Linked DNA regions of Homo sapiens. The protein of the gene in region 2 purifies or fractionates together with the protein of the main gene of each other region. This does not show direct contact. Each region holds a gene or a part of one and is shown on either strand. Other genes may lie near its edges.

What was found.
Region 1: the proteins of CHODL (region 2) and ATP7A purify together in Homo sapiens (affinity purification with mass spectrometry; one large-scale study listed by BioGRID and IntAct). This does not show direct contact.
Region 3: the proteins of CHODL (region 2) and HELLS purify together in Homo sapiens (affinity purification with mass spectrometry; one large-scale study listed by BioGRID and IntAct). This does not show direct contact.

Annotation. Positions count from the first base shown.
Region 1 is NC_000023.11:77,917,077-77,920,735, forward strand, and holds part of ATP7A (copper-transporting ATPase 1), read left to right. Parts: intron 1-3,659. UniProt on the Homo sapiens protein: ATP-driven copper (Cu(+)) ion pump that plays an important role in intracellular copper ion homeostasis.
Region 2 is NC_000021.9:18,247,805-18,251,463, forward strand, and holds part of CHODL (chondrolectin isoform a precursor), read left to right. Parts: intron 1-3,659. UniProt on the Homo sapiens protein: May play a role in the development of the nervous system such as in neurite outgrowth and elongation. May be involved in motor axon growth and guidance.
Region 3 is NC_000010.11:94,548,744-94,552,402, forward strand, and holds part of HELLS (lymphoid-specific helicase), read left to right. Parts: intron 1-3,659. UniProt on the Homo sapiens protein: Plays an essential role in normal development and survival. Involved in regulation of the expansion or survival of lymphoid cells. Required for de novo or maintenance DNA methylation. May control silencing of the imprinted CDKN1C gene through DNA methylation.

The DNA.
Region 1 (3,659 bases), on a different chromosome or scaffold from region 2:
GTGGAGTTTACAGACTAGTGAAGTAATAGAACTTAAATATGTGCAAGAAAACATTCTAGGTGAGGGGACCAGTTCTAAACAAAGTCATAGAAATAAATGATAAGAGCATGGACTATATGGCAATCAGTGAAGGGACTTGCTTGATTGTAGTAGAGATTTTATGTTGGGGAGGAGCACTGCAAGTGATAGATGCAGACCATCTTTTGAATGCTTTGAAGAACTATTTAAGTCTGTCTAAAAGTCCTTTGGATACACTGTTCTGGAGAGGGTTTGGGGCTTTGGGGTCATACTGCCTTGGTTTGATCTCATCTCTACTCTAATTTGTTTAAGTTTAGAATTTTATAGTAAGTTTTCTCAGTGACACAACTCTATAGGCAACAAACTGATATTTACAGAGTGGTTGGGGTCAGTAACCCTTGTATCAGTTAAGCAATGTACACATGAAGTGCCAGTAGGAAGTCCAAGGAAAGGTTGGGAGAAATAAAAGGAGGTTAGTAAAGGAAAGAGAAATAAATACATTCTGTGATAGTTGGTAGAATGTCATCAGAAATGTCTTCAAGCAAAACAATACATTTGCCTGTCTTTTGTTTCTAGTTGCGTTTAATGGTAGTGTGTTTTCCTTGTCTAAATATGAGAAAGAGAAACTAAACTGCAGCTACTTGACGTGGGCATCTGAGAGCTACCAATGGTTGGCTTAGGTTATGTTCTACATTTGAAGCATCTGGTCAGTTTTAGATTGTCTTCTATATTTGAAGCATCTGGCTAGACCACTTGTGTCCCAGTTTTCTATTTTACCTAAACTCAACTTGGTCAGAAGCTTATGTAGTAAGTATTGTTTGTAACCTGTGTTAGTACTCTCTTAACATGGCTTAAAGCATGAATGGATTGTCAAATGAATACCTGTTATGACCTGTATTTTTTCTTGTTACCTTTGGATTTAATGTAAGTATAATAATGCTCTAAGAACATTTGACAGTATTGTTCAGGCACTTTTTTTTTTTTTTTTTTGAGACAGGGTCTGGCTTTATTGCCTAGGCTGGAGTGCAGTGGCACGATCACAGCTCACTGCAGCCTCAACCTCCTGGGCTCAAGCAATCCTCCTACTTCAGCATTCCAAGTAGATAGGACCACAGGCATGTGCCACCATGCCTGGCTAATTTTTAAAATTTTTTTTTTGTAGAGACGGGATCTTACTTTGTTGCCCAGGCTGGTCTTGAACTCCTGGGTTCAAGTGATTCTCCTGCCTCAGCCTCCCCAAAGTGCTAGGAGTACACAGGCATGAGCCATCATGCATAGCTGCTTATTCAGGTGCTTTTAAGAAATTTTTTCCACCAGAAAAGTAGAAATGATCATACCAGACTACCTTTGTCTCCTCCCAATCTTTTATTATGGTGATGTCCAACCTTGTTATAAGGAGGAGCTTCTTTTAATCTCAGAGTCATGAGATCAGGGCAGATACTGACAGTATAGTTCCTGAGAAGTAGTTGCTGGCTGTGCTGTTCTTCCTTTCCCAATGGGAATCTTAGCTGAGACATGTAGCAGAGAGAAGACATTATGGGGAGCCAGCATGGAGCTTTATAGGAGGTGAGGTGTCTAGATCTACCAGTAGATCCCGATTTGCAGGTTTGAGACTCCTACCTTATTTCATCCATGGCTGTTGCATTGTACAAATCTAGTGGGCAGCAGCCACAGTCTGTAAAAATTATGACATGGAATTACACAATGTGGCAGCCCTGGAAACTACCCAAACCACTTCTATTTCTAGTCCTGTATTCCCTTCAATACCTACTACATCCAGCAGCCGTGATAGTCCCAACACGTTTATCATTTGACTCTCTTTGCCTCCCACTTGAAGGCTCCCCTTTAATCCAACAGATAAAAATTACATCTTTGTCTAAGGATTTCAAGGTGTTGCATAAATTTTCTTATTCTATTTAAGTATACTCATCAAGAAAATGATAATAACTGCCTCGTCTAATTCATAGGTTTTTATCAGTATCAAGTGGAATAATGTATGCAAAAACTTCATAAATTAAAGAATACTACACAAATATAATATTCTTTTCAGATATATTATGTTGTGGAAAGAATACTGAATTCCAATCAGATGTCTGGCATCTCAGTTCTTTCTGCTATTAACAAACTGTGACTTTGGACAAATTACTTTGTGCTCTGGGGACTTTGTTTCCTTACCTATAAGAGGAAACTTATAATGCCACTCCTATCTACCCAGACACCTAAGAGCTACTTTTTCCTCACCTCCACATTCAGTCACCAAATTTGTTGTCTAGTTCTTAAAATTTCTTAAGTTGGTCCTGCCCTCTCTATCTCCATTCAGTTCCTAATCACTTCCCTTTTGGGCAGCAGCCTGTTAAAAAAAATTGTGGTAAAATATGCATAATATAATATTGACTATTTTAACCTTTTTTTTTGAGACGAAGTCTCACTCTGTCACCCAGGATGCAGTGCAATGGTGTGATCTCTGCTCACTGCAGCCTCCGCCTCCCAGGCTCAAGCAATTCTCCTGCCTCAGCCCCCTGAGTAGCTAAGATTACAGGCACACGCCACCCCTGGCTAATTTTTGTATTTTTAGTGGAGACGGGGTTTCACCATGTTGGCCAGGCTGGTGTCAAGCTCCTGACCTCAAATGATCCACCCGCCTTGGCCTCCCAAAGTGCTGGGATTACAGGCGTGAGCCACTGTGTCCGGCCCCATTTTAACCATTTTTAAAGGTACAAGTCAGTGGCATTGAGTGCATTCTCAGTGTTGTACAATCATCACTGTTATGCATTTCCAGATTTTTTTCATCATCCCAAACTGAAACTCTGTACCCATTAAATAATAGCTTCTCATTCTGCCTTCTCTCACCCCCTGGTAACCTCATTCTACTTTCTGTCTCTATGAATTTACCTATTCTAGGTACTTTTTGAAAAATAATTTCAACATTTATTTTTGATTCAGAGGGTACATTTGCAGGTTTGTTACCTGGCTATATTGCATGATGCTGAGGTTGGGGTACAATTGATCCTGGCAATCAGGTACAGAGCAGAGTGCACAATAGTTTTTCAACCCTTGCCCCACTCCCTCCCCACCCAGTAGTCCGCAGTATCTATTGTTGCCATCTTTATGTCTATGAGTACCCATTTTTTTTTTTTTTGAGACGGAATCTCGCTCTGTCGCCCAGGCTGGAGTGCAGTGGTGTGATCTCGGCTCACTGCAAGCTCTGCCTCTCGGGTTCATGCCATTCTCCTGTCTCAGCCTCCCGAGTAGCTGGGACTACAGGTGCCCGCCACCACGCCTGGCTAATTTTTTTTGTATTTTTAGTAGAGACTGGGTTTCAACATGTTAGCCAGGATGGTCTTGATCTCCTGACCTCGTGATCCGCCCACCTCGGCCTCCCAAAGTGCTGGGATTACAGGCGTGAGCCACCGCGCCCGGCTGAGTACCCATTGTTTAGCTACCACTTATAAGTGAGAACGTGTGGTATTTGGTTTTCTGGTCTGCGTTAGTTTGCTTAGGATAATGGCCTCCAGCTGATTCCATGTTGCTGCAAAGGACATGATTTTGGTCTTTTTTTAATGGCTGCATAGTATTCCATGGTGTATATGTACCACATTTTCTTTATCCAATCCACCATTGATGGGCACCTAGGTTGATTC
Region 2 (3,659 bases):
TATCTATGGGAGCTGCAATCATTTAATTTTGTGAAGTGACTGGTGAGTAGTGATGTCTTCTTTAGGACAAAGGTAAAAGGATTTTACTTGTAGGCATAAGGATAAATATGAAGGATTCCAAATTCAGGTCTCTAAGTTGGGAGGATATGTTTGAAGAGCAAGTGATACTTTTAAACATTTGAAGTGTTTTGAAGTAATGTGTTTCTTTTTTTTTTTTCCTTTTTTCTTTCTAGTGTGCATAGCAGTGATCCCCAACCTATTTTTGCTGCAAAATGACATTAGGAATATTTCATGGTGCTTCCAGATTTCTCCAGGACACTTTAATATATATCAGTTTAACTTTATTAAAACTGGCACATGTTTTATTTAGGAGACTGGGTGATTTAGAGGCCTCTCTTCTTATCCTGTGGATACCATAGAATATTGCAAATTCATGGGTGGTGAACAGTAGCACATACATTAATACAATATGATATAATATATACCAAGGGAGATACAAGAAAAACTGCTGAGCCTTTCTCAGCCTATGGAACTAATCTATGACATCATCAAAAGCATAAAATGATGACAGTGCAGTTTTCAGAGATGCAATTACTTTAAGTATCTCTCGGGCATGAAAGGAACAAATTAATCTTATTACCAGTCATTTAATGAACTAACCATTTATCATAGCCATTATTCTTCAACTGCTGTTTGTCATCATTTTATGGTTTTGTTTTATAACTCTTTCCCAAAGATGGCAGTATCTGTTACATTACCTTTATAAAAGGTAATGTATTTTATATATATATATAAAATATATGTATAATACATATATAATATATATAATACATATATGTATATATTATATACATATATATGTATAATACATATATGTATATATTATATACATATATATGTATATAATATATACATATATATGTATATAATATATATGTATAATATATATGTATATATGTTATATATAATATATGTGTGTATATATGTATATGTGTGTATATATGTATGTATATTATATATGTATGTATATTGTATATGTATGTATATATACATTGTATATGTGTATATATATGTATTGTACCTATAATATAATACATATATATGTATAATACATATATATGTATACATATATATTATGTATACATATATATGTAATATATACATATATGTAAATATATATTATACATATATGTATTTATATATAATATATATTATACATAATATTAATATATATAATATTATATATATTATATATAATTTACTATATATAATATATATATAATAAAATATATATATATAATAATATATATATAATAAAATACATATATAATAATATATATATATATAAAGGAGTCCAAGGTTAAAATTCAGAAGATGCACTCACAAACAATTTTTACTATTTACAACAACTTTCTGTGTCAGGAATTCATATACAAGTAGATGGATGTGTGCGACTCTAGGATGAGAGTGTTTCTTTTACTATTTTAACATATTCCTCATGATATAACACAGGATGACAACTTGGCTAAAGTTATACTCTTTGTAATGTGGAATGCATTCAATTTGGATCTAGTTTGTTTTATTTGGAAAATAAAAAGACTAGATAAAAATTTATTAAAGGCATATATGGTTTGAAAATCTGAGACAGAGGCAACATTAATTCTTATTTAAATATTTGTAACAGAAAATCTAATTCTGTTTAGAAACAAGCTCTCAATGCACAAGCCTTGCTTATATTAGCCACCCAATAATCAATAACAGATTAATGCTTATGATTCTGACATAGATAACATGCACAGTGTTTGTGTTCATCAATCCCTTTTGTTCATGAAATATTTCACCTTTATATTAGGTTTGAGACATATGGAGACAGCATAGAAACCTGGTAAAAGCATGGAGTGTAGAGCCAGATGGCCTGGTTTCACAACCCAGCTTCAGCACTTGTGAGCTGTGTGAACTGCCCTCTTTGCCTCATTTTGAAAACAGATAAGAGCACCTATGTCATAGGATTGCTAGGAATATTAAAAAGGTTCAAACACAGTTATGCAGATTGTGCACTGTGTCGAGGTACAAGCCAAAGAGACAGGAGAAGGAGCTCAGCTTGGCAAGCCCAGTGCCTGTAGCTCAAGCTACCTAGAGGCAAAATCAACTTTTTCTAGTTGAACAGTCTATAAGAGGGACCTTTCTGCCATCTCTCACCAGGAGAGGTCGTCTTTTCCCAATTTATCCCAAAGCATGGATTGTGGTAGAAATGAGGTGCTACATTCTAAATTATTGCTAAATTTGAGGCTTTTATTATTAGAATCATTACTTCTATAAAACTCATAACTGGTCTCATTATTTAAGTAAGAAGACTGAGGCCAGGGGTGATTAAATAATCTCAAGTACCCAAAGTTCAAGTGTAGAGTTTGGTTTCAAAGCTAATTCATTTTGATTGGCTACATGAACTCTTAAGTCACAATGATACTTGGTTTACTACTTATTATTCTAATCTCCATTGTAAATATTCTGATTTTTTAAAAAAATAGTCTCATGCTCTTCTCAGAAAGCTTACGCATTTTCCAACTGGAAAAGTAGGGCTTGCTGCTGCTGCCACCATCCAGAAAATGACCACAACCTACATTTATAAACTTAATTTAAAATTATAAATAAAATTATAAATAAATTTGTTTATTAATGTAAGAAAATAGACTCCAGCTATAGTGCACTATGCAATTAAGTACATTATAAAATCTCTGTTGTAAAAATAAAAGTTTATTATAATAAAACTCTTTATAAGAAAAAATTTTAAGAAGTTGGTGTAACATTGAATGCTGAACGCAGAACACTTGAACACCAGTCATTTTCTTTTTAGTTCAAAAGTGTTGGCACTGGTATCACAGTCCTTGCTGCACTGTGTATGGTAGTATCAACATATTTATCAGTGTGATTGTGAGGGGGGTAAGAAGAAATTATGAAAAAGAAAAAAATATCTTGTGTGATTCTAATAAAACATTCTAAGTTAATTCAGTCTGGTTTGGGGAATATTTACCATGTGGATGCTCTTTTTTACTTTTTTTTGCAACTAATGGTAGATCATAATTGAACAGCAGGAATTTGTAATATGTCTTTTATATTTTTATTGAAAAAGTGATATAAATTCAATATTCATCTAATATTAATAATATATAATTATAGCGTGAGATATTAGAAAATATTTATTATTTTCATAACTAACTGAGCACTCAACTATCAGAAAATAAACAAATATAAGCAAAAAGAAAACCAAATTATAGATCCTTTCTGCTCAGAAAGAAAAAGCAAACTACCCTGACTTCATGAGTTTGGCCCCACTTTATATCATTGCCAAGAGCATTTAAACCTCTGCCAATAGTTAGCTCTATAGAAATTTTAATGGCTAAGGAAAAAGACAAAAATCATCTACTTATTCATGGAAAGAGTGATGAAATCTTTGTTGTGACAGTGATAGGAGTGTTAATAATAATAACTTTCTCTAAATAAAAGGGCCTGTTTATTTATGTAGCTGTGTGTGAAACTAATAAGGATGAATATTTCTTTTATATAAAATAAATGTATTTTATTTGTTTTAATATATAAAATATGTATTTTATTTATTTTATTTATTTATTTTAATATATAAAAATACATATTTATTTTAT
Region 3 (3,659 bases), on a different chromosome or scaffold from region 2:
AGCACTTTGGGAGGCCGAGGCGGGTGGATCACCTGAGGTCAGGAGTTCGAGACCAGTTTGGCCAACATGGTGAAACCCCGTCTCTACTAAAAATATAAAAATTAGCCAGATGTGGTGGCGCATACCTGCAGTCCCAACTACTCAGGAGGCTGAGGCAGGAGAATTGCTTGAACCCAGGAGGCAGAGGTTGCAGTGAGCCGAGATGGCATCACTGCACTCCAGCCTGGGTGACAGAGCAAGATTCCGTCTCAAAAAAAAAAGTATGTAGCCGTTTTCAATCTTAATATAAGTGTGTAATTTGCTAAAACATTAGTGTTGTGGTTTCGTATTACATTGTCTTGTTATGTACAGATAAGGAAAGTTTTTGATTATTTTTTGCACTGGACCCTCATAAAAAGTGATTGCCTAGATGACACTAGAAAATTCTAAGAAAAGTTTTCAGAGTCTCTACCTACTTGAGATTAATAAACATGTCTTTGGAGGCCAAACAATTAACTATGCACAGGTAGAGATTCCTTTTCTTTTGGGAGAATACAGTCTGTATGGGCATGTATTTAGAAGTACTTAACAGAGGAAGAGCTAGCTTAAGTTCCTTAATGAGAAGCATTTGGCTTTAGGAAATCCTAAGGTTTGTGAGGAACCTAGAAAATGACTTTGACATTCATTGGCTACAGTTATTTTCTTTGACTTTTCACATGTATTTCCCTTTAAAAGAAGTCATTGTTAGTCTAGGAGATTTGAGTACTGATAGTGCCTGTGAAGTGGAGGAGGGGGAATAGTTGGAGTCAGGAGATTTCTTGGAGAGGTAAAAGGATCATGATATGTGTAGGCTAAAATAGAACTCCTCCCACCCCCCAATAAAAAATCTGGGATTGGTGTTGGGAGAGATAATGGGGTAGATAATGAGGAATTTCTGCCCTCGGTGTCCATTGGCATACTCTGTACTGTAGTTACCCAGAGTTGTTTCCTGCCAGGCACTCAGTGCTTTTAATAGATGGAGTTGCAATTTACCGTAATATAATCATGAAATTGATAAATAAAGAAAAAACAGTGATAGGAAGATTTGAAATACAGAAGACCAGGTTTAAGGATTAACCACTTACATGGTATTATTTTAATATTAATTGTATATTATTTTTTTCCATGATGGCATCTTAAAGCTTTAGTGATTTTTATTTTTATTTTTATTTTTTTGAGACAGAGTTTCACTCTTGTTGCCCAGGCTAGAGTGCAATGGCGCAGTCTCGGCTCACTGCAACCTCTGCCTCCGGGGTTCAAGCAATTCTCCTGCCTCAGCCTCCTGAGTAGTTGGGATTACAGGCATGTGCCGCCAAGCCTGGCTAATTTTGTATTTTTAGTAGAGATGGGGTTTCTCCATGTTGGTCAGGCTGGTCTCGAACTCCCAACCTCAGGTGATCCGCCCGTCTTGACCTCCTAAAGTGCTGGGATTACAGGCATTAGCCACCATGCCCAGCTGATTTTTTTTTTTAGGAAAAATTTTTCCAGGAGCACCAGGCAAGTATTTAGGTTTTTTTTGCTTGTTTGTTTGTTTTGAGACGGAGTCTCCCTCTGTCACCCAGGCTGGAGTGCAGTGGCGTGATCTTGGCTCACTGCGACCTTCACCTGCCGGGTTTAAGCGATTCTTCTGCCTCAGCCTCCCAAGTAGCTAGGACTACAGGCGCGTGCCACCACGCCCAGCTAATTTTTTTTGTATTTTTAGTAAAGACGGGGTTTCAACATATTGGCCGGCCTGGTCTCAAACTCCTGACATCGTGATCTGCCTTCCTCGACCTCCCAAAGTGCCAGGATTACAGGCGTGAGCCACCATGCCTGGCTGTATTTAGTTGTTTTAAAAATATGTGCTGGCCAGGCGCGGTGGCTCATGCCTGTAATCCCAGCACTTTGGGAGGCTGAGGCGGGGCAGATCGCTTGAGCCCAGGGGTTAAGACCAGCCTGGGTAACAGGGTGAAACCCCATCTCTACAAAAAATTAAAAAACTAGCCGGCATGGTGGCACGCGCCTATAGTCCTAGCTACTCAAGAGGGTGAGGCAGGAGGATTATCGCTTGAGCCTGGGAGGCGCAGGTTGCATTGAGCCGAGATCTCACCACTGCACTCCAGCCTGGGTGATAGAGCGAGACCCTGTCTCAGAAAAAAGAAAAAGTGCTAATTCTGTACAGGATTTAAGGTATCAACTATATCTAAGTTAAACCCACGTTATTTTAACTGAACTTAAATTTTAAAAGTTAAAAATTTAAGAATCCATATATTGTGTAAGTAATTTTCATCTCCCTGTTTTCATATTCACCTCAGTAGTTGCGTATTGTAACCACAGTAGTATACTGGTAATAGTAAAAGAAATTCTGTCCTAAAAGAACTGAAAATTGAGTTCAAGATATTAAGAATTATCTGTGTAGGTGGGATTATGGGTGATTTATATATTTTTTGACATTTAGTTTTTCTGTAATGAGTATGCATTACTTTTGTTAGGTCCATTCTTAGAATCTTACTGTAGTCACTGATTTTATAATAGAAATATATTTTGATGCCGGGTACGGTGGCTCACACCTATAATCCCAGCACTTTGGGAGGCTGAGGCAGGTGGACCACGAGGTCAGTTCAAGAGCAGCCTGGCCAAGATGGTGAAAGCCCGTCTCTACTAAAAATACAAAAATTAGCGGGGTGTGGTGGCAGGTGCCTCTAGTCCCAGCTATACTGGGGAGGCTGAGGCAGGTAATTGCTTGAACCCGGGAGGCGGAGGCAGAGGTGAGCCAGGATTGTGCCACTGCACTCCAGCCTGGGCAACAGAGTGAGACTCCATCTCAAAAAAGAAAAAGAAATATATTTTGAAAGAAAGCTATAGTGATGATGTAATAGCTAGGAAAATGTAAGGCAATATAAAATGATATCTTAGAGATATTGATAAGCTGGAGCAGCAAAACTACCCAAGTGCTAGGGCATTATTTAGAGTATAAAAATGAATTCATACCCCCATTTCTTTTCTTTTTTTTTTTTGAGATGGAGTCTCGCTCTGTTGCCCAGGCTGAAGTGCAGTGGCGCGATCTCGGCTCACTGCAAGCTCTGCCTTCCGGGTTCACGCCATTCTCCTGCCTCAGCCTCCCAAGTAGCTGGGACTACAGGCGCCTGCAACCACACGCGGCTAATTTTTTGTATTTTTAGTAGAGACAGGGTTTCACCGTGTTAGCCAGGACAGTCTCAATCTCCTGACCTCGGGATCCGCCCGCCTCAGCCTCCCAAAGTGCTGGGATTACAGGCGTGAGCCACCGCGCCCAGCCTCATATCCCCCATTTCAAACACGCTGTAAACAATGCTCAATTACTTTCCTCTTAAGTTGAAACCACCAATTACTGGGGAAAGGGGCAGTTAGATTTTATTGGTTGACTTTGTGTTTTTACTAATCCTTGTTGAAAAGTAGAGGAATTGGTTTAGTTGAGAAAACAAAATACTAAAAAATCTGCCACTAGACTTTTTAAGTCAAGAGTTTGTATAAAATGAAACATATCTACTATCTAATCTATAAAATTTAGAATCTTTTTAATTCTAAAGTTAACTTAAGTGTGATTTTTAGTGCTGTTGCTGAGGCCAGTGTTGCTTAAAGCAGGAACTTCTACAGTAATTGACAAAACTTGAGTTTTTCTG